Regions from separate parts of the Homo sapiens genome. Here regions 1 and 3 are each linked to region 2. Evidence: fine-mapped expression QTL. A gene starts in region 2. Each other region holds a variant in brackets. All regions are shown on one strand. Distances are between the middles of the regions. Region 1 has its middle 23 kb from the start of SCCPDH. Region 2 holds the start of LINC01341 (long intergenic non-protein coding RNA 1341). Region 3 overlaps SCCPDH (saccharopine dehydrogenase (putative)).

The links. PIP is the estimated chance that this variant, and not a neighbour inherited with it, causes the effect.
Region 1: its variant is fine-mapped to the expression of LINC01341 in hypothalamus (GTEx, PIP 0.98).
Region 3: its variant is fine-mapped to the expression of LINC01341 in tibial artery (GTEx, PIP above 0.99). The same link has a PIP of 0.9 or more in adrenal gland, caudate, lung, pituitary and prefrontal cortex.

The regions. Positions count from the first base shown.
Region 1 is chr1:246,696,686-246,707,118 of GRCh38, forward strand. No RefSeq gene overlaps it. Among named protein-coding and RNA genes, the nearest start is that of SCCPDH, 23 kb to the right of the region's middle. RefSeq lists an enhancer at 2,366-2,795. The variant G/T (reference allele first, on the strand shown) is at 5,535.
Region 2 is chr1:246,784,621-246,795,053 of GRCh38, forward strand. It overlaps LINC01341 (long intergenic non-protein coding RNA 1341), which reads left to right and starts at 4,997. Exons shown (of 2, transcript NR_015422.1): 1 at 4,997-5,078; 2 at 5,826-6,866. It also overlaps the pseudogene KIF28P. RefSeq lists a silencer at 4,238-4,317 and an enhancer at 9,673-10,314.
Region 3 is chr1:246,749,832-246,760,264 of GRCh38, forward strand. It overlaps SCCPDH (saccharopine dehydrogenase (putative)), which reads left to right. Exons shown (of 12, transcript NM_016002.3): 6 at 8,395-8,525; 7 at 9,203-9,320; 8 at 10,126-10,245; 9 at 10,340-10,396. It also overlaps the pseudogene RPL35AP6. Among named protein-coding and RNA genes, the nearest start is that of SCCPDH, 31 kb to the left of the region's middle. RefSeq lists a silencer at 4,191-4,341. The variant G/T (reference allele first, on the strand shown) is at 5,464.

The DNA.
Region 1 (10,433 bases), 88 kb before region 2:
GCGCAGGGGCCCTGCCCTGCGGTGACTGAAAGGCGTGTGTGTGTGTGTGTGTGTGTGTGTGTGTGTGTGTGTGTGTAGGCGTGTGTGTGTGTGTGTGTGTGTGTGTGTGTGTGTCTGTGTGTGTGTGGTGAGGAGGGCCCTGCGCCTTGCCTGTCAGCTTTATGGAGGTGCCCCAGCTCGCTGGAGGAAAAGAATGCTGACCAGTGGCCCGAAAGGATTTTCCCGAATCCACTGGGAATGGGAAGGATCCTGTCAAAAATCCAAAGGGAAATGATACAACCAGGAAGCCTTGGTGCCCTTACAGGAACAGACAAGCCCCTTTCCCACGCTGTCATGTGGCATGAGGACACTCTCACAACCACAGTCACACACCCGGGAGCCCTGCCTGGCTTCAGCTGCCCGACATCCCTCGGGAGTCAGAGCAGAGGCGCACACGGAGGGCTCCGGCCTCCAGAGCGTGGCCCAGCGGCCGCAGGGGAAGGGGCAGAAATAAGCCACCTTCTCTCCAGAACGCTGAGCAGCTCAGGAAGCCGCTCGGGAAAGCACCTCTCTGATCCAGCCCCGAAGGCAGTGCCTTCTTTCTGCCCCTGCTGGGTCAAGGTTTTCTCAGCCACACCCTAATCCAATCGGTATTCGCAATCCAACTATCACATGTTTGTTAGGGGTTTTTTGTTGTTGGTTTAAATCTTTCTTTTTTTTTTTTTTTTAAGAGATGAGGTCGGCCGGGCGCCATGGCTCATGCCTGTAATCCCAGCACTTTGGGAGGCTGAGGTGGACGGATCACAAGGTCAGGAGTTGGAGACCAGCCTGGCCAGTATGGTGAAACCCCATTTCTACTAAAAATACAAAAATTAGCCGGGCGTGGTGGTGCACACCTGTAGTCCCAACTACTCGGGAGGCTAAGGCAGGAGAATCGCTTGAACCCAGGAGGCAGAGGTTGCAGTGAACCGAGATCACGCCACTGCACTCCAACCTGGGTGACAGAGAGACTCCATCTGAAAAAAAAAAAAAAAAGAGAGAGAGAGATGAGGTCTCGCTCTGTCCCCCAGGCTGCAGTGCGCTGGTACAATCACTGCAGCCTCGAGCTCCTGGCCTATGTGATCCTCCCGCCTCAGCCTCCTGAGTACCTGGGACCACAGGCACTGCCACCATGCCTGGCTCTCTTATCCTTATTTAATTCCTGTAAACAAATAGATATCAGCAGTCTAATTTGGATGGCTTTGGTCTCAAGAGAGCTAGTAAATGTGTTTGATAGTGCTTACCCAGATATTCCCACTGAACATCAGTTTCCCTGCCTTGATTCTAGCGTGCATTCCTGGGGAGACAGAGGACGTTGCAGTAAACCGGTCTGGTAGAATTGTGTGAGCCAAGGAGGATGGCAGTCCCACTCGTCACTGTGCCTACCTACATGATGCTCCTGCTGGGTGTTCAGAACTCATTCTTACCCAAAGGGCTAGATGATGGTGCAAACATTTCTTTCTTTCTTCCTTTTTTTGAGACGGACTCTTGCTCTGTCACCCAGGCATGATCTTGGCTCACTGCATCCTCTGCCTCCTGGGTTCAGGCAATTCTCCTGCCTCAGCCTCCTGAGTAGCTGGAATTACAAGCGTGTGCCACCATGCCCGGCTAAATTTTGTATTTTTTGTAGAGACGGGGTTTCACCACGTTGGCCAGGCTGGTCTCAAACTTCTTGCCTCGAGTGATCCTCCTGCCTCGGCCTCCCAATGTGCTGGGATTACAGGCGTGAGCCACCGCGCCGGCTGCAAATATTTCTTTACTGATTCCTTAGGTAACCCTTCACCTGTGCTTAGACCACCAAGGGTGGGCACCAGGAAACCCCATCTTCCTTTCCCACTCATTCAGTCTCCACTCTCCCAGCTTCCCTCCCACAGCCTTCTGTGTTTCATTTGCCTTGGACCCACAGATACCTCAGGGAGGAGCACCACGAAGGCAAACCAACCTCTTTCATATCAACATCCATTGCCACCTGTTAGTAAGTGTCAAATGGTGTTCTGCATGCTAGAAGATCTCCCTCCCACGGGGTGCCTGTGAGCCTCCTGCTATAGGAGACAGAATTCTGTATGGCCCATCCAGGGAGGAGCAACCGAAGGAAAAACAGCAACTGTGGTTCTCTGTGCCTATATTGGATTATGTCCCATAGATGCCCCTTACATCTTCTAATGAGGGAGTGGCTAGTGGGGCTCCTATTTGCTAGATGTTTCTGCTGCTGGGCTAAAAACCGCTTAGGTGGCCGGGCGGGGTGGCTCACGCCTCTAATCCCTGCACTTTGGGAGCCGAAGTGGGAGGATTACTTGAGTTTAGGAGTTTGAGACCAGCCTGGGCAACATAGTGAGACCCCCATCTCTACAAAATGAATAAGTAGAGTTTAAATTAAAAAGAGAAAAAGAAACATGCTTAATCTACTTCTGAGAATGATCTCAGGAAGAGAGTGAAACAGATGGGCTCGGTCTCCTGAGGGAGACAAACAGGGCTTCAAGCAGGGCTTAGGCTGGGGACGCTGTGTGGAGCAGAGTCACTGGCTATTTATAGCCCAAACAGTAAGAAGAGTCGTTATGAAAATGCCCAGAGGTGCTTTGATCCGGGAAGTACACAAGCCAATCAAAATACGCCGCCTTCGGGCAAGAGGAGCCGGAGAGCGCCATCTAGTGACCCCACAAGTTCCCTTCCTGAAGGAAGTATTCAGTCCGGAGAAACCAAGACCCACCTCACAGCGAGGACCAGAGAGACACCTTGGTAAGAGGCCCTGGAAACGAAACACAAAGCGAGGAAGGACAGTGCACGGGCCTCAGACGCGAAAAACAGGGGTCGGAGTGCCCATCCTACAGGTTGTTTGATAATTAAATGAGATATTTCCTTTTTATATGAAATGTTTTATGTTCATAAAGATGACAACTAAATAATCTTCATTAACTTAGGAATCCAGCCCTTACTATGTGACACAGTGTGTGCCAATGTATTTATCATTTTGTTTTATGAGTTGTATCTTTTTTTTTTTTTTTTTTGAGACAGGGTCTCACTTTGTCACCGAGGCTGGAGTGCAGTGACACAATCTCGGCTCACTGCAACCTCTACTTCCCAGGCTCAAGTGATTCTCCTGCCTCAGCCTCCTGAGTAGCTGGGACTACAGGCGTGCGCCACCACGCCCAGTTGATTTTTTGTATTTGTTTTGTTTTGTTTTGTTTTGTTTTAGTAGATATGGGGTTTTGCCGTGTTGGCCAGGCTTGTCTCGAACTCCTGAGCTCAGGTGATCTGCCTGCCTCGGCCTCCAAAGTGCTGGGATTACAGGCGTGAACCACGGCGTCTGGCCAACTTGTATCATTTTTGTTATTATAGAATATTTATTTGAAATGTTCTAGTTTGCAGTAATTTGTGGGAGTTTTGTTCTTACTAGGACTTAGGAAAGATATTGCATAAACCACTGCTATTGGGTTCACAGAAAATATAGGAAAAAAAGAATAACAACTATTTTGGGGTTTTTTTGGTTGGGGGTGGTTTGAGACAGGGTCTTGTCGTCGCCCAGGCTGGGGTGCCGTGGCGCCATCACGGCACTCAAACTCCTGGGCTCACTGCAACCTCAAACTCCTGGGCTCAATCAATCTTCCCACCTTAGCCTCCTGAGTAGCTGGGACCGCAGGTGCCTGCCACCACGTCTGGCTAATTTATTTATTTTTGTAGAGATGGGGTTTCACCATGTTGCTCAGGCTGGTCTCAAACTCCTGGGCTCAAGTAATTCTCCCACCTTGGCCTCTCAAAGTGCTGGAATTACTGGCATAAGCCACTGCACCTGGCTCAATAAGAACTATTATGGAAATGACATTTACATTTGTATATGTGCCAGATGTATATGAAATAGAATGAAAAAAGGCCCAAACCCAGCATAACGCACCGTTTCCTGGAATATTAATACATGCCAGGCAGCCTAAAGGTATGTCTCGTGGCAAGCCTGGGTCTGGATGAAACAAAACCTGGATTCCTCACAGTTCTGCATAGATTCTTGGAAGGCAGAGATGAGAGTCACTATCAGGCAACCAAAATATAGTTTTCTCTTATGACTTCGAGTCACCTCACTTATGGAATTTGGAAACTTACATGTGCAGATGACAGTTGGCAACAGCAGAGTGTGTCTCACAGCTAGATGTGGGTGTGTAATTAGCTGGAGGCCATACATGATTAAATCAATATGTTTCATTAGATGTCACATGTTAATCCTCCTTACTCATTTTGAGAATATTTTAATTTTCATAATAAATTATTCTGATTATAGCCGGGTGCGGTGGCTCATGCCTGTAATCCCAGCACTTTGGGAGGCTGAGGCGGGTGGATCACGAGGTCAGGAGATCAAGACCATCCTGGCTAACATGGTGAAACCCCGTCTCTACTAAATGTACAAAAAATTAGCCGGGTGTGGTGGCCGGCGCCTGTAGTCCCAGCTACTTGGGAGGCTGAGGCAGGAGAATGGCGTGAACCCGGGAGACGGAGCTTGCAGTGAGCCGAGATTGCACCACTGCACTCCAGCCTGGGCAACAGAGCGAGATTCTGTCTCAAAAAAAAAAAAAAGAGGATATCCAAATGACCAAAAGACATAAGAAAATGTGATCTATATCATTAGTTACCAGGTAAACACACATTAAAAGTGCAATGAAATATCATTACATAACAACTCAAAAATTAAAAGGATGGGGAATACCAAGTGTTGATGATGTTAGGGAGCAACTGGAACTTTCTCTCATCAGTTACTAGTTGAAGTGTTAACCGAAGCAGCCACTTTTGAAAACTGCTTAGCAGGATCTACCAGAGCTAAACATACACCTACCCTTTACTCTGGCAATTTCACTCCTAGGTATAAATCCAAGAGAAATGAGTACACTTGAGTAGTAAGCCTTGTGTATGAGAAAGTTCAGAGCAGCCTTATTCATAATAGTAAAGCTAGAAGTGTCCCAATTAGCTATCAGCAGCAGAATAAAAACTAAACTGCTCACACGTGTAATCCCAGCACTTTGGGAGGCCGAGGCGGGTGGATCACAAGGTCAGGAGATCAAGACCATCCTGGCCAACATAGTGAAACCCCATCTCTACTAAAGATACAAAAAAAAAATTAGTCGGGCGTGGTGGCGGGCGCCTGTAGTCCCAGCTACTTGGGAGGCTGAGGCAGGAGGATGGCGTGAACCCAGGAGGCGGAGCTTGCAGTGAGCCGAGATCGCACCACTGCACTCCAGCCTGGGCGACAGAGCAAGACTCTGTCTCAAAAAAAAAAACAAAAATCAAAAAACAAAAAGCAAACAAACAAAAAACTAAACTGGCCAGGCACAGTGGCTCATGCCTATACTCCGACCAATTTGGGAGGCCAAAGTGGGTGGATAACTTGAGGTCAGGAGTTTGAGACCAGCCTGGCCAACATGGTGAAACCCCATCTCTACCAAAAATACAAAAATAAGTTGAGTGTGGTGGTGCATACCTGTAGTCCCAGCTACTCGGGAGGCTGAGGCAGGAAAATCACTTGAACCCGGGAGGCG[G/T]AGATTGCAGTGAGCTAAGATTGCGCCATTGCACTCCAGCCGGGGAAACAGAGTGAGACTCCATCTCACAAAGAAAAAAAAAAAGGAAAAAAAGAATAAAAATTTAACTAAAAACTATATTCATATGGCATAGTGTTATACAGCAATAAAAATAAGGAATTACTGATATATGCAGCAATATGGATGAATCTTAGACATTATGCTGAATGAAAGAAACCAGATACAAAAAGAGTGCATACCAAATGATTCCTTTCTTTTCTTGAGACAGAGTCTCGCTCTGTTGCCCAGGCTGGAGTGCAGTGGCACGATCTTGGCTCACTGCGAGCTCCGCCTCCCAGGTTCAAGTGATTCTCCTGCCTCAGCCTCCCGAGTAGCTGGGATTACAGGGATGTGCCACCTCACCTGGCTAATTTTTGTATCTTTAGTAGAGATGGGGTTTCACCACGTTGGCCAGGCTGGTCTCAAACTCCCGACTTTAGGTGATCCACTCACCTCGGCCTCCCAAAGTGCTGGGATTACAGGTGTGAGCCACTGCACCTGGCTGAATGATTCCTTTTATATGAAGTTCAATAAATCAGAATAGTGGTTACCCCTGGAGAGGATGGTGCTGAATGAAAAGGAGTACAGGGAAATCCTCTGGTGCTGGGAACATCCTGTATCTTGATCTGAGTGGTGGTTGCAGGGTGCGTATATATATTAAAATTCAATGATTTCTACATTTCAGGGTAATGTATTTTAAAACTTTATTATATTTATTTTATACCTCAATAAAGAAGAAAAAAAGAATACAGATGCTAACTTGAAGGGAATACTAGTGGCCAAAGATGGGACAATTTGAATATCAAGAAAAATTTTGACTGTGATGTATTGAAACATATTAAACAAATAAAAACCCATTAGTTTATAATGATTCTAAAAATATTACTTGATCTGTTATCATCTTGAAAATTGGTAAAAAGAAAAAATCAGGTATTTTTTCCTGTTTTTCCTTAGCAGTAATATTTCAGAGTAAACAAATAGTTGATGAAGAAATTATTTTCCCAACTTCCAGCTGATAAATACAGAAGGAACAATAGAATTAGAAAACTGCTGGCTGGGTGCGGTGGCTCACACCTGTAATCCCAGCACTTTGGGAGGCTGAGGTGGGTGGATCACCTGAGGTCAGGTATTCGAGACCAGCCTGGCCAACATGGTGAAACCCCATCTCTACTGAAAATACAAAAATTAGCTGGGCATGGTGGCACGCGCCTGTAATCCCAGCTACTCAGGAGGCTGAGGCAGAAGAATCGTTTGAACCCGGGAGGCAGAGGTTGTAGCGTAGCAAGCCGAGATCACGCCACTGCACTCCAGCCTGGGCAACAGAGCGAGACTCCTTCTCTACATAAATAAATAAAAAAGCCTGGCACAGCATGTCTGGGCTGAAATCAAGTTGCGGACCAGGCTGAGTTCCCATCTGGAGGCTCCGGGCAAAATCTGCTTTAAAACTCATTCTTGTCGTTGGCAGAATTCAGTTCCTTGTGGTTGCAAGACCCAGGTTTCCTGGTTTCCTCGCTGGCTGTCAGCCAGGAGCTGCTTCAGCTCCGAGAGGCTCCCTGCACTCCCGGCCCTGGGGTTTCCTGTATCTTTAAGCCATCAAAGACACATTGAGCCCTTCTTGAAATTCACATTTCTGGCTTCCTCCGTCTTGATCTCTAGACCAGGATTTAAATGGCTAGGCCCATTTGAGTAATCTCTCAAATTTCAGATAAATTTATTTGAGACCTTAACTACATCTGTGAAATTCCTCGTCGTTGAAGGTCACATAGCCACAGGAGCGGCAGCTCTTCACATTCACAGGCTCTACCTACATTTACGGGAAGGAAGTGACACAAGGACAAGGGTCGTTTGGGGATCACCTTAGAATAGTTCCTACTAAAATCACCAATGCAGGCGGTGGCTCACACTTGTAATCCCAGCACTTTGAGAGGCCAAGGTGGGTGGATTGCTTGAGGTCAGGAGTTTGAGACCAGCCTGGCTACCATGGCGAAACCCCATCTCTACTAAAAACACAATAATCAGCCAGGCATGGCGGTGCACACCGTAATCCCAGCTACACGGGAAGTTGAGGCAGGAGAATCGCTTGAACCTGGGGGGTGGAGGTTGCAGTGAGCCAAGACTGCACCACTGCTCCAGCCTGGGCGACAAGAGCAAGACTGTTAAAAAAAAAAAAAAAAATCACCAATGTAGTATTCTTGCTGAATTTTTAAACCTGGATCCAATTCTGAGGATACAGTCAGACAAATCCAGATTGTGTGACATTCTACATGTCAACTGGCCTGAACTCTTCAAAAATGTCAGTCATAAAAGATTTTTTTAAAAGAGGTTACTCTTCCAGATTCCAGGAGGTTAAAGAGACATGACAACCAAATGTATAATCCTCGATTGAAGATTGAAGCCTGGATTTTAAAAAATATTATGAGACATTTTCAAGACAATTTGAAATGTGAATATATTCCAGCTATTAGTTCATATTATTGTAACAATGTTACATTTCTTCAGTGTGATAATGGTGCTATGATTATGTAGGAGAATGTCTTTGTTCTCAAGAAATAAGTGAATGCTAGAAAATTTTAGGGGCGAAGGTCAGTATATTTGCAACTTTTAAATGGTTCAGAAAAAAATATATGTATGGAGATAGAGAAAAACAGTGGCAAAATGTTAACAATTAGTGAATTAAGAAGAGCATATGGGTATTTATTGTATTATTATCATTTTTTAATCTTTCTGTGGACTTGGAGATTTTTTTTTTTTTTTTTTTTGAGATGGGGTCTTGCTCTGTCATCCAGGCTGGAGTACAGTGGCATGATCATAGCTTACTGCAGCCTTGAACTCCTGGGCTCAAGTGATCCTCCCCTCTCAGTCTCCTGAGTAGCTGGGACTACAGGTGTGCACCACCACTCCTGGCTAATTTTCCTATTTTTCTGTAGAGTCAGGATCTCATTATGTTGCCCAGGCTAGTCTCAAACTCCTGGGCTCAGGTGATCCTTCTGCCTCAGCCTCCCAAAGTGTTGAGATGGCAGGCGTGAATGTGCCTGACCTGACTCGAAGATTTTTTAAAAAATAAATCTCAAAGAGAAAAAGAATGTGGTGTAAAACCATCTTAATGGTAAACTTATTTTCCCTTTCTCTGTTTTTTTCTATAGTGAGGCCGTACTGAAAGAATGTGATGTAAAACCGTCTTAGTGGTAAACTTATTTTCCATCTCTCTGGTTCTTTCTATAGTGAGGCAGTACTGAAAGAATGTAGCAAGTGAGTTGAGCAATTTCAGACATTCAGACAACGCCCAAATATCTTGTGGGAAATCTTTTCTGCCCATAAACATAAGTCAGAATCTATTTTCTGGAAGGCTAAATAACCAATTACTTATTGCTATGATTCATAAGTAAAGAAAGACACTACTTTCCCTCCCCCATTATCAAAACATGATCTAGTAAAAAAGTTTGGAAACTCTATTTGTTCACCAAGATTTTGCTTCCCCAGACCTTTATGTTTGCAATGGCCATAGAAGTAGTTCAGGTTCACGTACTGATATATACAGACAGGCCCAAGCCATACTTCAATAAACGTACCATAGATGTGAAATACAGGATAGAGAGCAAGAGCTTTTGGCACGGTAATCTTAGATGTGGAAATTTACTCTAATACGATTATTAAGAAGGAAAAGTTATATAAGAATATGTATAGTGAGCCAGGCGCGGTGGCTCACGCCTCTAATCCCAGCACTTTGGGAGGCCGAGGCGGGCGGATCACAAGGTCAGGAGATTGAGACCATCCTGGCCAACATGGTGAAACCCCGTCTCTACTAAAATTCAAAAAATTAGCCAGGCATGGTGGCATGCACCTGTAATCCCAGCTACTTGGGAGGCTGAGGCAGGAGAATCGCTTGAACCTGGGAGGCAGAGATTACAGGAGGTTGCAGTGAGCCGAGATCACACCACTGCACTCCAGCCTGGAGACAAAGCAAGAGTCCGTCTTAAAAAAAAAAAAAAGTGACAAATTGGAAAAGGTCTAAATGTACATCTGTAGGGAAGTACTTAAATTATGTCTACCAGTACTATGTGGATTTTTTTCGTTAATTTGAATATAATGTGAAATCAGAAAAAAATGGCCATCAAATAATGTTAAGGATATTTATTAAGTGCACCAAAACATTATATTCTATACCTTAAACATATACAATTTAAAAACGTTAAGGACCCAGCCAGAGCAATTGGCAAGAGAAAGAAATAAAGGGTATCCAAATTGGAAATGAGGAATCAAATGGCCTATTTGCAGACAATATGATCTTTGCAGTTGATCCTTAAACAACGCAGGTTTGAACTTCACAGATCTACTTATACGTAAACTTTCTTCCATCTCCATCTCTGCTGCCCTTGAGACAGCAAGACCAACCCCACCTGTTCCTCCTCAGCCTACTCAGCCTGGTCCCAGGTACTTGGGAGGCTGAGGTGGGAGGATCACTTGAGCTTGGGGACGTGGAGGTTAAAGTGAGCTGAGTTTGCACCACCATTTACAATAGCTACAAAAATAAAAATACCTAGAAATAAATTTAACCAAGGAGGTGAAAGATATCTATCAGGAAAACTTTAACACAGAGATGAAAAAAATTGAAGGAGACACACACACACACACACACACACACACACACACACACACAGGAAAAAAAAGGGAAAGAAATAGAAATAGAAAAAAAAAAGTCACCTAGCAGAGGCTTGCAAAGGTGCAGATTGCCCTCAGGGATTTGGTAGATACCAGTCCTCCTGCCCCTGGCTGCAGTGCAGAATGTACAGGAATGGGGAAGGTCAGGGAGGATTTCATTCCAGGGCTTTAACCTTCCACTTCTCCAGCCTTTCTCCCTCC
Region 2 (10,433 bases):
AGAAGTCCATGCTGACTCCCTAGGGTGAGGGTCTCACGGGAGACCCTGTCTGCATCACACAGACCTGCAGGAAAGGGGCCGGTCTCTGAGGAGCTGGGCTCCAGGAGGATCCTTGCTTGGTTTCCTCCCTGGGGCAGCATCTTGGCAGCCCCAGCACCTGGAGGGCGAAACCCCGTGGACGGGGTGGTGGATGCAGTGCACAGGTGCTGACCACATGGGACGCACACACATGCTTATAGTCTTAGCTCATTTCACAATTTTTAAAAGCTTTACAAAAATCGGTCTCGGCCCAGAACATTTTGGCAATTTTCGGGCGATGAGCAGATGAGCAGAAAAGTGAAACTCAGAGAAGCTTCAATTGCTGAGCAGGGAGGGAGCAGCCCGGGGTGGGGGCCGGAGGCGCAGTCTGGAAAGGCAACGGGTGAGTGTGCTGGAGCCGGAAGCCTGAGGGCTGCTCCTCCAGGGGCCTGATATGCACAAGGGGTGCTGCAAGATGGGCCTGCATTTCTGTTTCCTCCTTTGGAGGCAGAGGGAGAGGAAACAGGGTCTTAAGTTTCTAAAATGGAATTTCCTGATAGTAAGGTCCAGCCAGTGGAGTTGGTGAAACAGCCTTTTCTGGAGTCCCTAGGAGGATTGCTTTTCTCATTGCTGCAGAAAGGCAGTCTGTGTTCTCACGGGCACATGTACACACAAACACACACTTGCACACACACACACGCACCTACGTGCATGGACAGACACCACTACCACTTGTATAAACTCCCAGGCTCCCTTCTGGTACAAAAGCCTTTGAGTCATACTCAGCATGAACAGATGCTCAGTGCAGGCTAGCTTAGGAACGCTCCCAGGAGCTGGTGCTGTGAGGGAGGGTGCAGGACAGGGAATGGCTGGTGCTGGGAGGGAGGACCCAGGACAGGGAACGGGAGAGTGGATCCCCCTGTTCCCCAGAGCTCCAGCTCATACTTGGAATACGTTTTGCCCTTGACTGGGTCTCCGGAGGCTGCAGCTGGTAAAGATAACCTGTGTCCCCATGGATCCTCACCTCCTGGGTCCCGTCCCCGTGGATCCTCACCTCCTGAGTCCCGTCCCCGTGCGGCCTCACCTCCTGAGTCCCGTCCCCATGGATCTTCACCTCCTGAGTCCCTTCCCCGTGGATCCTCACCTCCTGAGTCCCTTCCCCATGGATCTTCACCTCCTGAGTCCCGTCCCCATGGATCTTCACCTCCTGAGTCCCTTCCCCGTGGATCCTCACCTCCTGAGTCCCGTCCCCATGGATCTTCACCTCCTGAGTCCCGTCCCCGTGGATCCTCACCTCCTGAGTCCCATCCCCATGGATCCTCACCTCCTGAGTCCCATCCCTGTGGGGCCTCACCTCGTGAGACCCGTGGTGGGTCACCTTCACCAAGACCTCCTTCTGTAGGTCATAGCCCCTGGAATCTGACGATGCCAAATTTTTCACCTTCAATTCCATGTTAAGTCCCTGGTAAAAGAAACACTTCTCACTAAATAATTGTACATTCTGCTGGGCACAGTCCCTCATGCCTGTAATCCCAGCACTTTGGGAGGCTGAGGCGAGTGGATCGCTTGAGCCCAGGAGTTCAAGACCAGCCTGGGCAACATAGCAAAACCCCATCTCTACTAAAAATACAAAAATTAGCCAGGCATGGAAGTGCACACCTGTAATCCCAGCTACTTGGGAGGCAGAGGTGGGAGGATCACTTGAACCCGGGAAGTGGAGGTTGCAGTAAACCATGATTGCACCACTGCATTCCAGCCTGGGCGGCAGATTGAGACCCTGTCAAAAAGAAAAAAAAAATCCTACATTCACAGCTCATACCACCTTTGCAATTTATTTTTCATTCTCCCACCCTCGGGCTTCCTAAATGATGAATGAATAAGACTCTCTCTAAGATGTCCCACTCTTGCCCCTTGGATTTCCCACTAAGAGGAAAGACAGAGCACCAGATTTTCTCCATTATATCCTGGAACTAACACTTGGAGTCCCTACCAAATTGATTAAATCTCTTACAAGGTTCCGGCCGATGGGAGCTCACGTCTCCAGGGAGCTGTCCCCAGCCCAGGTGGTCTGTGTGGCACAGCAGCCATCAGGGTGCCTAGACCCGGAGAGGCCCCAGGACCATCTGGGAGGGCCTGCTCATGGCCAGCAAGAGTTGGTCTGGGATCCCGGTGGCCCTGGTAGGCTGTTGGTGAAAGGAATGGTACTCGGGCCTGGGCTGGGCAGTCTGGCTTCTGTGGCTAGTTCCCTGAGAGTCCCTGGGAACGCACCCCTGCCCCACAAGGCCTTGAGGTCCTTTCTGCACCTGGCACACCAGCTCCTGGCTCCAGCTAACTTACCTTCTTTGGCTCTTCACTCATTTGATTTGCTTCTGAACCAGCGGCATCAGTTTGATGTAGTCCTGGAACGCAGCCAGGACACTGGGGCCCGCCTTGCCGTCTCCACCGTCCGCAGCACCTGGCAACAATCACAGTGGAGGCGAAAGTCAGTCACTTGTTCCGCCATGAAGAATTTTTTTTTTTTTTTTTTTTTGAAATAGAGTTTCACTCTCGTTGCCCAGGCTGGAGTGCAGTGGCGCCATCTCGGCTCGCTGCAACCTCTGCCTCCCAAGTTGAAGCAATTCTCCTGCCTCAGCCTCCTGAGTAGCTGGGATTACAGGTGCGCACTACCACACCCGGCTAATTTTTGTATTTTTAGTAGAGATGGGGTTTCACTATGTTGGCCAGGCTGGTCTCGAACTCCTGACCTCAGGTGATCTGCCCACCTCGGCCTCCAAAAGTGCTGGAATTACAGGCGTACAGGCATGAGCCACCATGCCAAGCCCTTTTTCTTTTTTTTTTAGACAGCTGTCTTGCTCTGTCGTCCAGGCTAGCGTTCAGTGGCATGATCTCTGCTCATTGCAGCCTCCACCTCCCAGACTCAAGCAATCCTCCCATCTCAGCCTGCTGAGTACCTGGGACTACGGGTGCAAGCCACCATGCCTGGCTAATTTTTAAAATATTTTGTAGAGATGAGGTCTCACTTTGTTTCCCAGGCTGGTCTTGAACTCCCAGGTTCAAGCGATCCTCCTGCCTTGGCCTCTCAAAGTGCTAGGATTACAGGCATGAGACACCACGCCCAGCCGCCATGAATAAATGTGTATGCTTATTTGTTCATTCATTTGTTCAGCTGTTCATCAAATATCTACATTTTAAAATTACAAGCATGTAATTTAAAAACAAACAAGGGAAAATGACACTGCCTGGCTTCTCCTTACGTGGTTGCTTATCTCGACCCATGAATCCTGGCCGCAGGCAGGAGGTCCTCTGCCCCCAGTTCCCATTCTTGGTCTCAGGGTCCTTGACCCAAGGTGGCTCCAGACTGGAGGAGGGTGGGGCGAGGTGAAACATGGCTGGCTAGACGGAAGGCCTGGAGGTATCCTCAAGCTGCTGCTGGCACAGCAAGTGACCTGTGCTTCTCTTATACTTGGGGTGGCTTGAAGGAGGGGCTCGTGGAGATTATGGGAGGATCAATCTCCCTCCCAAACCCAGGCTGGTACTGCCTCTAATCAGGAAATCTCAACTCTTAGAGACCCCTGGCCTGTGGGTGCACACAGTGCCCTTGGCCCTGAGGTCTGACCCCAAACTGCTCACACAGCTGCTGCCTTGTTGGGGACCCAAGTCTTCCCTAGGGTCCGAGCCAGGGTCTGGGGCTGGTTCAGCTTCATGGCGCCACCAGGGCCACAGGGGCAGTGGCACGGTCAACCTCTGAGGACAGGTCAATGAACAGATGGCTTTTCCGGGCCTGGTATGACAGAGTCTTACTGGTTCGTTGTTTTGTTTTGTTTTGTTTTGTTTTGAAATGGAGTCTCGCTCTGTCACCCAGGCTGGAGTGCTGTGGCACGATCTCAGCTCACTGCAACCTCCTCCTCCCAGGTTCAGGCAATTCTCCTGCCTCAGCCTCCTGAGTAGCTGGGACTACAGGTGTGTGCCATCACATCCGGCTACTTTTTTGTATTTTTAGTAGAGACGGGGTTTCACTGTGTTAGCCAGGATGGTCTCGATCTCCTGACCTCGTGATCTGCCCGCCTCGGCCTCTCAAAGGGCTGGGATTACAGGCGTGAGCCACCGCGCCCGGCCTTGTTCATTTTTAAAAGTCGAAAACTTCAGCAGAAGAAGAGCAAGGAGGTGAATTTCTAATCGATTTATTTTGCTGAAATTCTGAGAGAAACACTGTGGTGTGGGGACAGGGAGGAGCTCTTGCACACACACAGGTGGATCTGCCCACTTTCCACCAGCGGTTTCATTACTGCGAGTTCAGGCAGAGTCCCGGTGCCGAGCAAAGCGTGGGGCCCCTCCGGGAAGCCCGCAGGTCACTCAGATCGCAGCGGGCTCCGGCCTGGCCAGGATTCTGGGGGAGCCGCCCGGAGCGCGGTGAATCGGGGCGGGGAGAGGGGCGGGGAAGGCGCGCGAAAGCCCCAGCAGAGACCGGCAGCGGCGGGCGGCCCGCGTGGGCTACTGCTGGGGGCTGCGTTCGGGCGAGGAGGGGAGATTCTGTCTCAGAGGCCTCGGGCTGCACGTTCTTCCGGGCCGCGCATTTGCAGCCCACAGCAGGCCCCAGCCGGCCCCTCTGGAGTTGGGCCACTGCTTCTGCAGGCCCAGCAGGCCCCTGGGGGCGGCCGGAGGCCACTAACTGGCTTCTCCAGCTCAGCATTCTTCTCTCATTTGCTGGGTACCCCACTCTCTTCTCTACCCCTTTGAACCATCTTTACCCTCATTCCTCAGGGAACGTTTAACGAGTTGAATGTTTACCATGTAGTCACTCTATATGGAAATCATAATTCAATTTTGTAAACATCAGACTTTGACAAAACAAATGATGATGTTCTTAAGGAAAGCAGAGAGACACAGTGTGAAATCGCTGCTCTCAGATCAGCACACGGGAGAGGCCAGCAGTCAGGAGGGGGCTCACCGAGTTTGTCTGCACTCGCTCCCTCCGCAGCCGCCCTCTCCAGCTGGAAGAAGTCGTAATCGAACCTGCTCAGGTCCTCACTGCCCCACTCCGAAGGAAACCCCACGTACAGGTAGGTGCTGTTGGATCCCAAAATCAGGCGGTCCTGGGGAGGAGACGGTGGGCTCAGGAGGGGTTCGAGGCCAAGGAGGGTGAGGTGAACCTCCCCAGTGAGAAGGATCTGAGGAATGTCCTCCCCTCAGGAATCCCCCAGACAGGGAGAGACGCAGACAGGAGGGAGGTGGCCTCTGGCTCCTGCGTTCACCTTCATTGCACACATTGAGGGCGTGACTCCCTTGGCCCTGGGGTTCTGTGGGGACCACCCAGAGCCAGGCCCTCCCTCCACGCTTTCCAGGCTGGTCTGGGTGAGTGCAGCAATGGCTGCAGGGGACACCAGGACCTAACTCAGACTACAGGCTACAGACGGCCTTTTCCGAGGCGTGATGCCCAAGCTAAGCCCTCCTGGGCGGTAAGTCTTGGTGAGGCAGAGACGGCTGCTGAACAACCAAAAGAAGGGCAGTGTGGCCAGGGACAGGAGGCCGAGGGAGGTCACTGAGGGGGCTTTCCAAATGGGGAGCGGCCAATCCCCATCTGCCTGTCCTGTCTGAAAGGCTGTGGCCACCAGGGAGGGGAGAGGGCTGCTGGGAAGCTGGCAGGGGCCCCAGGGTTGGCAGATTGGGGAGGAAGAGGCAGCGATGTTTGCAAGATGCTGTTCAACCCCTCTCAGTGACAGGCTCTTAGAAAAATCTAAAATGGCACAAAATGTTAGAGCTGGAAGGGACCTTGGAGAACACCTAGTTCAGCCCTCCTTGTTTTCCAGGTGAGGTCAGAGGAGTGAAGTGACTTGCCCAAGACCACACAGTGAGTCAGGAGCAGGCCTGTCCCTCCAGCAGTGGTGCCATGTTGTCCCCAAGCCATGGTGGCAGAGGAGCTGGTGTGAACGCCCCATCCTGCCACGTCTGTGATGTGGGCACCTCACATGACTGTCCCCTCCCAGCTCTTGGGGGGGACCTAGGACATTCTGTGAGCCTGCAGGAAAGTTTACCAAATGCTGCAGCTTTGTCCTGGTGGTGATGGGCACCCCGTTAACGGCAACCTTGCATTTGCTATGTGGAGTGACCGTCACTTTACCGTCGGCATTTGTGAAGGAAGCGTGTTTATCTGAAATTCTAAGAAGATGAGAGTCAAAGACACCCAGCAAACGGCGGTTTCCGTGAGCAGGTAGGCTGACCTTTCTCATGTGCACAGGAGGGAAGGTCTACAGCTGCGGAGGATGGCAGGTGGCATCTCGGGGCCTCCTGTGTGCTGTGGCCCATGATGCATGGGGACAGCAGCGGGCGCAGAAGGACCCTGCCCTTGGGGAGCACGGGGAGCTGGGAGACAGCAGGCAAGGGCTTCATTAACAGAACGAACACCAGCTGAGGGCCTAGCACTGCGGGGAGCCGGCCAAGGCCACACTGGAGTCCTCCCGCTCCCAGGCCAGCGGGATGGGGTGGTGGGAAGATGGCAGCAAGCAAGCTTCAGAAGAGACGCTCAGGAGGCGACTCTTAACGAGCCTCACCTACTCCGGGTACGTTTTGATCTGTTTCTGCGCCCTCGCCGTATAAATTCAGACCTTATAGGATTTGGGGCTGGACGTCGGGGTGTCAGGTTGGCATCCCCTCTCCCCGCCCTGCTCCCCTGCACCGATGTCATCTGTGTGTCCTGAATGACTGGCTCCCTGCCTTAGCATGTTCCATGTTCCTGCACTCCTTGGCCATCATGGAATGTTCTGGATGTGGAGACCCGTGTGCATCCAAACCCTTTTTTGCATGGGGCCCAGGGATCCTGTGGGAAAGGTTGCGGCCTCATCACTGGAGTTCAGACATTTACGCACCTGTGCGTTGGACTAAGGACGTGTTCTGGAAAGGGACTTGAGGGGGATCCCCAGGAAGATGTCCCAAGAAGGAGGCTGGCAGTGCAGGACGAGGCGGGGCCAGCCGGCCCCTGGGTCAGCACCCCTCCAGCCACGACGGCCCGTGGGCTTTCGTACGGGGGCAGGGGGTGATCTGTCTGAAGGATGTAGGTGATGGTGCTTCCCAGCTGGAGAGCTGGAAGCAGGAGGAGGACACTCCAGCAGCAGCCTCCCAGGCAGGGCAGCCACAGAGCTGGGGACAGCTCTTGACTGGGTGAGGCCCGGCATGGGGTTTCCCAGGGCTCCTGCGGGGCCTCCTGAGGGAGCCCTTGGGGTCACTCCACAGTCTGGGCTTTCTGTAGTCCGGTGGGTCAGGGCTCCAAGCACCAGGAGAGATCCAGGGATGCGCTTATGTTTGGGCCACCCCCGGTGGGCTTGTTCGTTCAGCCCCCTTCGTTTCCTGGCCTGCTCTACTTATATCTGTTTGTGAAGAATTATTACACAGAATCTAGAAACCAGCTTTCCCTTTTCTCCCAGGGTTGGAGCCCAGGAAGCAAACCAGCACTGCACCCTAGATTTCAGCCAGAGGACGAAAGCCCTGCCCTCAGCTTTCTCAGACCAGCCCTGGAGTAGGTGGCCCGGGGAGACCTGGGCAGTGTCCCTGCTTGTCCTGCAGACTGTGTGGCTCTGCAGACCTCTAGATGGAGGAGGCACAATTCTCTAATGCTGGACGAGGACACTGATCATGGAAACTCACCCCAAACCTTGAATCGTGATAGCATTTGAGGCAGCCTGACCGGTGCCACATGAACCTGAAAGGAATCAAGATATAATTTATTTTGAAAATAAATCAGACACTTTCAGAATTTGAGCGTAAGAAGTTAACATGTCTGATGCGTTGGAAGTGACGTTTTCTCTACAGTGGGATGGTACTGAAGGGATTTTTCCAGTTGGGATTTTCAATCATAATGGTACTTAGACATACTTTTCTTTCTGCCTTGTGTGTGGGGGGAAGAGCGGGGATGTTCCTAACTTTTAAAAAGTTCCACCTTCTTCATGAGCATTCTGGAGGAAGACACCATTAGGTCTGGGCCTTAGGAGACCCACTGAATACTGGCCACAGCAGAGGTTCTGGTGTTTGAAGCTCCGTTTCTGTGTAGTGACTGACCCCAAGGAGTGCAGACATGTCACCCCCCACATCCCCACATCCCACGGCCATCTCGCACGGAGCCCTCGCGGCCGCCCTGGGGGGTGCACGGAGCCCTCGCGGCGGCCCTGGGGGGTGCACGGAGCCCTTGCGGCCGTCCTTGGGGTGCTCGGAGCCCTCGCGGCCGTCCTGGGGGTGCACGGAGCCCTCGCGGCCGTCCTGGGGGTGCACAGCCGGGGAGGGGAAGCCAGGGGCTCCTGCGGTTCTGGGCGCTGTGTTCCAACCTGTTCAGCACTCATTTAGGTCAGGAAGACAATTCAACAGCTGATGCCCTCCTCAGAAACCGCTAAACAAAAATGTAACAAGAACGATGCCAGGATAATAGATGAATAAAACGTGCTGTATACATCCGAGGGAATGGTTTTCAGCCTTCAAGAGGAAGGAAATTCTCACACATGCTACATGGATGCACCTTGAGGACATTCTGCTGAGGGCATAAGCCAGTGAGAGATGGATGAAAAGGTCCTTATCTGAGGTCCCCCATCGTCAAATCCACAGAGACAGAAGGTGGGACACTGGCTTCCAGGGCTGGAGGGGGAGGGGTTATCTGAGGTCCCCCCATTGTCAAACGCACAGAGACAGAAGGTGGGACAGTGGCTGCTGGACTGGAGGGGGAGGGGTTATCTGAGGTCCCCCCATCCTCAAACACACAGAGACAGAAGGTGGGACACTGGCTCCCAGGGCTGGATGGGGAGGGGTTATCTGAGGTCCCCCCATCGTCAAACGCACAGAGACAGAAGGTGGGACACTGGCTCCCAGGGCTGGAGGGGGAGGGGTTAGCTGAGGTCCCCCATCCTCAAACACACAGAGACAGAAGGTGGGACAGTGGCTGCTGGTCTGGATGGGGAGGGGTTATCTGAGGTCCCCCCATCGTCAAACGCACAGAGACAGAAGGTAGGACACTGGCTCCCAGGGCTGGAGGGGGAGGGGTTATCTGAGGTCCCCCCACTGTCAAACACACAGAGACAGAAGGTGGGACAGTGGCTCCCAGGGCTGGAGGGGGAGGGGCAGCTCCCGTTTCATGGGTACAGAGTTTCCGTCTGGGAAGATGAAAATGTACTGCAGATGGATGGTGGTGATGGTCACACAATATGAATGTACTTTATGCCACTGAGCTGTACTCTTAAAATGGTTCAAATGAACTTTATGTATATTTTACCAAAATGAAAAATATTTAAAAAACAAGAAAGAAAAGAAACATGCCTGTGGGGCAAGAAGCATGGGAAGGGCGGGGACGGGGGGAGGGTAGGGGAGGGCGGGGTGGGGAGAAGGCAGGGCAGGGGCAGGGGGAGCACAGGGGGAGGGCAGGGTGGGGAGAAGGCAGGGCGGGGGCAGGGAAAGGAAGGGGGAGGGGAAGGACACGGAAAGGGAAGGGGGAGGGGAAGGGCAGGGAGGGGAGAGCAGGGGCAGGGGGAGGGCAGGGTTGGGGCAGGGGAAGGCAGGAGGGTGGGGTGGGGAGAGGGCAGGGCGGGGGCAGGGGGCCGGCTGAGTACCAGCTTGAATGAAGTACTTGAGCACCCTGGTGAGCTGAGGGTCCTCGCTGAGGTTAAGAAGGTGAGGGAAGGTCATCATCTGCCGCTCCTGCAGGAGAAGTGGAGAGGGTTGGGTGTCACCAGTCCGCACCAGCCCACTGGGGAGAGCAACACTTCTTTCCCGTCTCTGTGCACCTTGTCAACCCTCCTGGGGAGGGAGGAAAGCTGAGAGGGGCTGGGGCATTGCTGATGGTGGGGTGGAGTCTCAGGCAGGCCAGCCGTCAGGAGTCTGAGTACATCTGGACTGGACAGTTCCAAGGAGCTGTCTCCCGGCTGCCCTCCCCAGCTGTCTGCATGCCCCGCTCTGGTCCCCTGCCTGGGCAGCCCCTCCCCATGTCTCCATGCAGCCTCTCATTCTCCCGAAGTGCTGCTGGCTGGCTGAGAATCAGATGTTGATGGCAAAAAGTGGGGTATGGCACGAACCCTCGCCTGGCAACCTGAACATGTCATTCGTCCACACAAGGATTGTTGTGGCGTAGGGATTTGACAGTAAACAGAACGGGGATGATTATGCAGCCACGAGGAAGACTTTTACAGCTTGAAATCCTCTCTGACAAAGAGTAAAGAGGGCAAAAACCCTTCCAATTTTTACTGTATATGCAGAACCCAAAATCCCGTATTCCTCCATGTGACCTTACTTGACCCTTGAAGCTGAGAGTCCCAGCCACCACTTACACAGAACGTGACTCAGTACAGCCCTAACTGTCTGGTTTCCTGATGCCACAGACCCCACCCTGCTCCACCCCCCAGGCCCTGAGGCCGTAGTTAGGCAGTATGAGGTTCCGGAATCCCCAG
Region 3 (10,433 bases), 35 kb before region 2:
ATACTTTTCTAAAGTGTAGATTTGCCTCTGGTTTGACAAATCTTCACAGGGCATCAGAAGGCAAGCGTCAAAAGTAATGGTTTGGGGTGAACTTGACCTAGTTACACTAGTAAAGAGAGGACTAGCAATAGAAGGGGAAAAGAAAGAGATGCAGTATAGGAGGTTCAAACCCATTTTCGCTTTAGCTTGGTTGGAGTTGGCCCTGGAATAGCTGTCCATGATTCTGGAGGGGGTGGTGCTCTTTGGACCCAGGTGTAATGAGTCCATCCTCTTTCTGCTGTTCGAACCGCGGTCTTGGTGCTTAGAAGCACTAGGTAGGGTCCTTCGAAAGCGGGTTCGAGTTTTCCTTCCCTTTAGCTTTTGACAAGGACACGGTCCTCATGCTAATGTTGGTGTACTGGAAACTCTAGCGGGGGGGTACCTGTGCTGAAAGACCTATAGTTCTGAGGGACGAGAAAGTGGAAGATAAACCAAACATACAATTTCTGAGGAACTGATCTTTTGTTTTGACTGTGGGAATGTCAGCAGTGGAGTGCAAACAGGGCAACCTATACAACACTTCGTAAGGGGATAAGCGAACATCTTTCCGAGGGGCAGTTCAGATTCTAGGCAGGGCAATGGGATGGCAGCTAGTCCATGGCACCCGAGTCTCTAGACTAATTTGGTTAGGTGGCTTTTTTAGAGTTTGGTTCATTCTTTCCACTCTTCCTGATGAAGGTGGGTGCCAGGGAGTATGATATTCCCATGTTATATCCAGTACCTGGGCTAATTTCTTAATGACATGTACAGTGAAATGAGTCCTATTATCTGAGTCAATGCTTTCTATTAATCTAAACCTGGGTATAATATTTTCAACTAATGCCTTGACTACATTACTAGCAGTTGTACTTGAAAAGGGAATAGTTTGTACCCAACGAGTAAGGTGATCTATTATTACTAATAAATACTTTAGACGACCAATTGGAGGCATCTCTGTGTAATGAATCTGGATACTTTGGAATGGCCTTAAGCCTGGACTCCTTCCCCCAAGGGGTAATCTTTTTATAGTTTGTTTATTGGTTTTCTTACATACTGAGCAACTGTCTGTAACCCGTTTGGCCGGGGTATAAATTCCTGTGCACCCATAAACTCTGAGGACTGCGTCACACATGGCGTGGGGCCCCCAGTGGGTCCCTTGACGCAGCTGGAACAACATTTCGCTCATAAGGGGTTTGGATAACATTTCTCTCTGGTCTGGCAGTATCCATTTTCCTTCAGAATTCTCTTTAGCAACTGTTTTTATTAATTTTTTAGACCAAAGAAACCCAAATGCCATTTTATATTTGACAATTAGCAGATCAGCTAAATGTCACCTTTCTATTAGTGTGCTATTAATGTTAAACTCAATTTTAATAAAACCTTTTAGACATATTTATCCAATTTTAATGTCTGACCATAAGTTTTTTATAGACTCTTTTTAACCCTTTATAATTTTTGTTAAAGAACAGGTTAGTACTTTAAGAAAAACCTGTTGTGCTTTTATTTTAATGTCCAGTTTACAGAAACTTTAACCAATATGTTTACACACAGAATTTCCTTTACAATTAACTTTTCAAACCTTGCTTAAACCTTCAAAACAATTTTTAACCTTTTAATGTAGGTAAAAATCCACATTCTTATGCCTCCTTATAATCCTTTTACCAAAAGTATATTTTACTTTCCTTACACACCTTGCACATAAACTGTTTCTTCAATAGTTTTACATTCAGGAGGCCTAATTACTTTTCAATTATATGACATTTCTTGCATAAATTCCCTTTTATAACATTTTTCACGACTTTCACAGACGACCTTTGACATGCCTTAACTTTCTGACTTGTCGTAAATATCCCTTTCTTTAAACAACCAGTTAATTTACTTTAGGACAAGAATTTACCATATAAGATTCTTTTTACATAAATTCTCCTTTTTTTTTTTTTTTGAGATGGAGTCTCGCTCTGTCGCCCAGGCTGGAGTGCAGTGGCGCAGTCTCAGCTCACTGCAAGCTCGCCTCCCGGGTTCATGCCATTCTCCTGCCTCAGCCTCCTGAGTAGCTGGGGCTACAGGCTCCCGCCACCACGCCCGGCTAATTTTTTTTTTTTTGTATTTTTTTAGTAGAGACGGGCTTTCACCGTGTTAGCCAGGATGGTCTCATCTCCTGACCTCATGCTTCACCCGCCTCGGCCTCCCAAAGTGCTGGGATTACAGGCCTGAGCCACCGCGCCCGGCTAATTCTCCTTTTTTTTTAATGTCAAAGATGATAACCATTCTTTTCCAAAGCACACTGCCTTCATGTCTGTGGACTAGACTGCCTGAGGCCACAAGATTAGAAGTTAGGATCATACATGTTAGACTTAACTTTTAGCAAACTTTACTTTTGTTGAAAACCTTGTAAGTTTGGGATTTTAATTATGTGCTAGGTGTAGAGCCTAGGACCTAGACAGAAGTGCAGATGAGGTCTGGCTTCTCCTAGCATTTAACTCCATGTGTCCTAGGTTTTCCCTAGCTGCAAAGCAGGCCAGTTGTACAGCTAAGAAACGGTAGTCTGTTTGGCTATCTGATTAATAGCTCTAAGTTCTTGCACTAACCAGTATGACCCATCTGGCTTCTTTACAGGCAGAATTTGAGTGTTATAGGGAGACATACAGGGTTTAAGCAGCCCGTCACAGAGAAGACCTTCAATTATCAATTGTAGGTTTTAAATTTACCCTCACTTTTAAAGGAATAGGGTATTGCTTTCTCTTTTCTACTTCCCCAGGGGTTTTTAATTTTTTTAATTTAACACGAATCGGAGGAATCTGTAACTTTCCTCGATTCCTGTCTTTTGACCATACCTTGGGATGAATGTGTTCTTTGTCTGCGGTGGGGAGCAAGTTTAGGGAGGGGAGGAATTTTCCCTAATCAATATAGAGGCGTAAGCCAAATTTTAGTACTAAATCTCTCTCTGATAAGTTTGTTCCTGCCTCTGGAATTAACAGAAATTTAATATGAACTGATTTGCTTTTATATATGACTTTTGTTCTTTTTCCCATTTGGGACATTGTCTTTTGAAGTGACCTATTTTTAATTCGAAACATTTGTTTTGTCCTCTTTCTCTCCCTTTGCCTCTTCGTCTGTGTCTCTGTCTCTCTCTCTCTCCGCCTCTCTGTCTCTTTCTCTCTCTTTGCCTCTCTGTCTCTTTCTCTCTCTCTCTTTTTCTTTGACTCTCTCTCTCTCTCTTTCTCTCTCCTTGACTCCTTCTGTTCCCTGTCAGTCTTTCTCCTCTAGGATTTTTTTTCTCTACCTTTGAGTCTCCTGGCTTTACTCTTTCATCCTCTTTATGTTGCCTGGAGAGTGGGGGTCTAGGTTCTTTACAGGTTCTGGCCCCCTGGGTACTTTGTTGTATGGTAGACAGCAGAATTTTTGCTTTCTGCTTTTTTCTTCATCTCTTCTTACATACACTTTTTGGGCTTCTCTTAGAAGCTCTTCTATAGGTTTATCTTTCCAGTTCTCTATCTTTTGTAATTTCTTATTAATATCTGGCCAACTGTTAGTGACAAAATGCAGTTTTAACATTCCCTGCCCAAGAGGATCCTCGAGACCTAGACCAGCATATTTTCTCATTTGTTCCTTTAATCTAAAAAATTTTATAGGTGCTTCATCTTTCCCTTGCTGTACATAAAATGTTTGGGTAAGATTCTGGGATACTGATTCTTTAATCCCCTTTATTATCAATTCCCTAAGGTCCTGCATATTTTCTTGAGGGGCTGCATTGTTATTGTCCCACCTGAGGTTTTGGGCGGGAAATTTTTGATCCGCTGTAGGAACGTTTTGGCCAGAAGGGTGTTCACGTTCCAAGACTCCCATAGCAGTTCGACGGATCGTGGCTCTTTCTTCCCCCGAGAAGAGAGGAAAGGGAAGTTCTGAAAATCCTTTTTACATTGCTCTATCTCACGCTGAAGTCCTTTTAGGGAAGAGGACTTAACGCTCGTAGTGAGTGGGCTCCTGGGACAGTTCCCAGGAGGCAGGGTTATAAGGAGGGGGACAATGGGGATAGGAGAAGGGTCTGGGACAGCAGCTGCTTTTTCTTGTTTTTGGTCCTTTCATTATCCTTCTAGTATTTTAACATGAGACCTAGGGGGCACTCAAGGGGAATATCCTTGTTATCTTTGTCCTTCTTGGTCCCTGTCTTGCTTGGGGTATTTCCCATATTGGGTCCTGGTTAGGCCCCATCTCTCATCTTAGAGATGTGTCTCCTATCCTTTAGCCCCACCTGCTGGAGGCTCCTCGCATTCACACACACTTTCAACCCCCGCAGAGTATCCCGACCACCGAGGAAACGCTTGGCTGCTCCTGTGGTGTTTCTTACCTTGGTCTGTGCACAGAGTTACCTGGTCGCTGCGGTGTGTGATGATCCCTTTCCCCAGGTCGCCAGCCAGTTTCTTTCTGCATTGCTGAGAGTCCGGGTTTATTTGTCACACCCGGTGGGTCTTGATTCCTTACCCCTGAGGCCACTGCAACAAGGCAGCGGGGCATGCCTCCTCATGGGAGAGGACCAGACCCTTCACCAAAGGAGAATGGGAATCCCGGGCGGGCCCCCAAATTTGTTAGAAGTAAATTTTCAGTGCCGCAAAAGAAATAGCACTTGAACATAAATTTTTTCAACTAGGCTGTAGCAGGATAAGCTGCAGACAAAACCCCTCAGACACCAAGTTAAAGAAGGAAGGGCTTTATTCGGCTGGGAGCTTCGGCAAGACTCACGTCTCCAGCAGTCGAGCTCCGCGAGTGAGCAATTCCTGTCCCTTTTAAGGGCTTACAACTCTAAGGGGGTCCGTGTGAGAGGGTCGTGATCCACTGAGCAGACATGTGTCCGTTTCACCTAGGTTATCTAATTTGTTGGCATACACTTTTCATAGTATTCCTTTATACTCCTTTTTATTTCTATAAGGTTGGTAATAATGTTCCCTCTTTTATTCCTGATTTTAGTAGTTTGGGTTTTCTTTCTCTTTTTTTTGGTCTGTCTAGCCAAAATGTGTCAGTTTTGTTGACCTCTTCAAAGAACCAACTTTTAGTTTTGTTGATTTTTTCTATTCTGTTTCATTTATTTCCACAATAGTTTTTATTGTTCCTGGATATGAAATTAATATAAAAATCAGCTGTATTTCTGTATGCCAGCTACAGTTAGAAGGTGATTATTTTTGTAAAAAACACCATTTATGATAGCATTAAATAAATCAAGTACCTAAGAGTAAGTAATAGAAAGTGTACAAGATTTCTTTGAAGAAAACTGTAAACCTTTATTGAGGGACCATAAAGAAGACATAAATTGAAGGATCCAGCGTATTCATGGATTAAAATATGAATCCATTTTGTAGTTAATTTTCTTCAAATTTGTTTATAATCTCATGCAATTCCCATCAAAATCACAAACAGGTTTTTTTGTTTGTTTTGTTTCGATGTGCATCT[G/T]GACAAGCTGTTTCTAAAATGTATGTGGAAACTCAAAGGGCTGAGAACAGGCAAGATATTCTTGAAAGAGAATAAGGCAGAAAGACACTCTTGGAGATCAAGACCTGTTATTAAGTCAGCATAAACCCTTGACATATGGTAAAGGGGCTTTTCCTATCATTTTTCTTTTCTTTTTACAAATCCACTTTTACTGGTATTTATTTACTTTTCATTAGTTCAAATCCTTGAGGAGTACAGCATCACAGAGCCGCCGTGACTAGTGGCCTAAGCAGGACGGCTGCTTTGGAATTAGGCACACATTGTGCCACTGTTTCCGTGGGCACACGTTACCTTTCTCCACCTTACTCTGGTTTTGTTTGGTTTGCTGCCAGGAGTCAGTATTATTCTTTGTACACATAAGCGCATTTCCTGCCCAAATCAAATCTCATTTTATGTCAGCCATAAATACCTTCAGTTTTAAGAAGAGCTGTGTCCTCCCTTTGGTTCTGGAGATCCTGCTGACGGCAAAAACGGCCTTGGACCACAGCTTTCCAGGCATACTTGTCATTTAGAATTCCTCCTCCCAGCAGGCCTCCGGGCTTCAAGTTGGCAGGAACAGCAAGGGGGCTTTTCGGTAGATGCTGCTGGGACAATTGAGTATCTACTTGGAGAAAAAATGGAATTGGATTCATACTTTTGCACCCCGTACCAAAATCAAGTTTAGATGGATTGTGGATGCCCTCACGGTTGGGAATGGCTTTTACAAAAAGACAAAGAGGCATTAAATGTAATGAAAAAGTGATACGTTTGTGTACTTTTAAAATTGAGAATGTTTCCCAAAACACACGATTAAGAAAGTCAAAAGGCTAGCTGCAATGTAGGAGTTACTTACAACACGTGGTAAATCCTGACATCACAATTTTGAGCATAAGAAGCCAAACACTCAGTAATAAATCTTGCTTGATTGCATTTCTGTAGAGCTTAGAAACAGGCAAAACTAATTGTACTGTTTAGGGATGAATTCTTAGGTGATTAAACTCTAAAGAAAAGAATTTTTCTTGATTACTGTAAAGGCAGGACGGAAGGAGGGCCTTCTTAGTTGCTGGTTACCTGTAGTTCTTGACCTGGATGTTTACATGTACGTTGGCTTCATAACATACATGAATATACAATTTAATAAAATTGTATTAGGTACGTCTCTATATTTTTCTGTGAAACGCAAATAGTTTTTTAAATTGAATGTAATTTTTTCCTTTTCAATGGCTTAGTTGTATAAGAAAATATGTTTAGATTTTTAAAAAGCTGTTTTCTCCTGGTGTTTGGAATCTTTACATTTGTAGAGATTCACATAGGCCCTTTTGGCTAGGCTCAGATTGAGTAGATAACAAATCAAACCTTTAAGACTTTAGTTCTGTTGTAGTTTTAATAAAACAGAAGAAATAAATCTGTACCAGAATGAAAGTTAGATTTGGTATCTCTGCTTTTCAGTATCATCAAAGCTGAGATAGGAAAACCTGAATCTTTGGATGGTTTTATTGTTTCTCTTATTTTGTTTATTAACAATGAAAGGTACCTTCATATCTGCCTCCCACATATCCCTCTTTGAAAATCTTGTGACAGAATTAGTTTTGAATCTTTCTGAATTACTCTGTTGACCTAAACAATGTAAACAACATAGAAGGAAGGACATAATACAATTATGTACAATCAATATAATAAATGAAGTTTATTCCTGTAATAGAGAATTAAAAGGCCCACCTAGAGGTTGGGAAAGAAAGGTCAGTGCTAGGCCGGGCGCGGTGGCTCATGCCTGCAATCCCAGCACTTTGGGAGGCCAAGGCGGGCGGCTTGCCTGAGGTCAGAAGTTCGAGACCAGCCTGGCCAACATGGTGAAACCCCGTCTTTACTAAAAATACAAAAATTAGCCAGGCATGGTGGTGGGCACCTGTAATCCCAGCTACTCGGGAGGTTGAGACAGGAGAATTGCTTGAACCTAGGAGGCAGAGGTTGCAGTGAGCTGAGATCGTGCCATTGCACTCCCGTCTGGGTGACAAGAGCAAGACTCTGTCTCAAAAAAAAAAAAAAAAAAAAAGGGCCAGCGCTGTGATAGTAAATTCAGAGGTCGTGTCCTCTCCTGGGGTCTCAGCCACTCGTTTCTCGGTGGCGCTAGAGGTAAGGGTTGGGGAAGCTGTAAAGAGTATTGGTAGAATGGAAGGCACTGACAGCCCAAAGTCTCATGAAAGGATGAAAAATCAGTGAATAAATGAGAGTCTGAGTAAGATCAGGCAAATACTAAGGACTCTGTACTGGCTGTGATACCAAAAAGAAATCAAGGGATTGAGGAAAGCAATTAAAATACAAATCATTATTAGTGAACTTTAAATGTTTTAAACAATTATTTTACTAAGACTTCAGTAGGAAGACAGATCTATAACTTGGGGCTAGAGTAAGAGGTGTTGGAGGTAGACGGGGAACCAGGTGTAACAGGATGGAGAGATGGACAGTACACAGTGTATGTATGCATAAATGTGCACACGGACATATCCAGAAATGTTGAGGAATTTGTGTAGGATCGAGAGAGGATTAGGGTGGCTATTCCTGCAGATCATATGGGGCAGAAAAAAAAGGATTAGAGTGGCTGATCTTGAAGGAATATGGTCAATTAGTTGAGTAAAATTGATGAAGTAAAACTAAATAACTTATTACAGAATATAAAGAATGATAGGAGGGGAGAAGAAAGGGCTTCTCGGTGTAAATATTGGGTATGATCAAGCTAATGAATGTGACTGCTCCCTAGCTGGTCATGAAAATTCTCCTCAAGATTATTAAATCAGGGATTATGTCTTGTCCAAATATAAGTGAAATATTGTTTGTAACAATGATAAGTTACTTGGCTTTACATTTTAGTAACTACCCTTTCATGTTTCTTTAACTCTTGAAATATTTTATTAGGGGTTGAGCATTCATGATGGTACCTGGAAGTCAGCAATTTATGGTTTTGGAGATCAGAGTAATTTGAGAAAACTAAGAAATGTATCAAATCTGAAACCTGTCCCGCTCATTGGTCCAAAATTGAAGAGAAGGTAAATTAACTTAAAATCCATTTTTTATATATCTAGTCTAAGTATATTGTTGTTGGGTTGGCTATTAATAAAGTATGTTACTAAGAAAAGCTTGGAGACTAATTTGTAGTAAGTTCAGAATTGTTTTCACAGATAAATAAGATATAATTAATCCATTACCATATGCTTGAGATAAATAAGATATAATTAATCCATTACCATAAGCTTAAGATAAATAAGACATAATTAATCCATTACCATAAGCTTAAGTACTTCGTGTGTAATAAAACATGTGAATCCTAGGAAATAAGTGAATCTTATGATGACTTTTCACTATCAATATAGAAATTAACTGTCAACTAAATTTTATGTGAGAACTTTTTTTCTTTTTTAAAAATTTATTTTAGTTTAGTTTTATACTGCAGGACATATGTGAGAAGTTTAGAGGTAAGAATTTAGGGTTGGGCTGTTGAAAGGAGCGTTCTGGTTTTTTTTTTCTTTTGAGACAGAGTCTCTCTTTGTTGCCCAAGTTGGTCTCAAAGTCCTGGCCTTAAGTGATCCTCCTGCCTCGGCCTCCCAAAGTGCTGGGATTACAGGCATGAGCCACCATGCCCTGCCACTGATTTGCTTATTCAGACATTTACCAGCCAAAGTTGTAATTGCAGGAAATGCAAAATATTCATAGGTCTGTCTTGCAGGTGGCCAATTTCTTATTGTCGGGAACTCAAAGGTTATTCCATTCCTTTTATGGGATCTGATGTGTCTGTTGTAAGGAGGACTCAACGTTACTTGTATGAAAATTTAGAGGAATCACCAGTAAGTATATATGGTTTATTTATCAATAAAGTGTGTGTTACAGTTCCTCTTTCTATTCAGTGTGGGATATTTTTGTTTATAAGGCAGAAAAAGGAAGAGCTAAGTAATACATGTTTCAGCCTCTGGAAATACACAGAATCATTAGGGTAGAACATTTTGTATTTTATAACCTTGTCTTTTGATTCAGATCTGGCTGCTGAATATCTTTTTAATGTAACACAATAGCAGCAAATTCAATACGGGAAATCCTGCTGTCATAAGCACCCCAGAATCCCTGTTTAGGGTTTCAGTTGCTAGAAACTCTTTTGCTTGTGGAAATGTCTGGAACCCTTTCTGTCCCCTCTCTCCTTGCCACGCCTGGAGTTCCATCCTGCTGCTTTTGGCGAGGAAAGTAATTGCTTTCATTGCCGAGACTTCAGGAGGAAATTATATTTCAAGTTAAAAGGTGGAGGGCATTTTCTTATAGGAGTCTACGTTCTGTAATGTATGATTGCTAAGCTCAGATATATTAGGGATTATGTAGATTTTTGTGCCCAAGTAGGGGAAGCTAATTACTATTTATAAACAATTTTCTTTAAAAAGTAGACTATCATACTTCCTGTTCACCAGGTCTGACAAAACAAACAAAAAATAGGCTCCCAATGTCTGGTTTCTGAACAAGATTTCAGAACATAATGCATTTGTAAAGTGGAAACTGCTTTTGTTCCACATTTGTGATGGAAGAGAAAGGTACAAGTAACTAACATTCTTACTTGGTCCAAAATGTAGGGAGTAATGTTCTAACTTTGTCTTCTCCATCATCTAGGTTCAGTATGCTGCGTATGTAACTGTGGGAGGCATCACCTCTGTTATTAAGCTGATGTTTGCAGGACTTTTCTTTTTGTTCTTTGTGAGGTTTGGAATTGGAAGGCAACTTCTCATAAAAGTAAGTAAGATTTTATGAAATTAGATTATTTTTATTAGAAGTATTTTCCATGAGTTTTAAAAAAATATCACTGACGGTTTTTTTTTCCCTTTAGTTCCCATGGTTCTTCTCCTTTGGCTATTTTTCAAAACAAGGCCCAACACAAAAACAGGTAATTTCTTTTGTATTAAGACACTAAAATAATATTT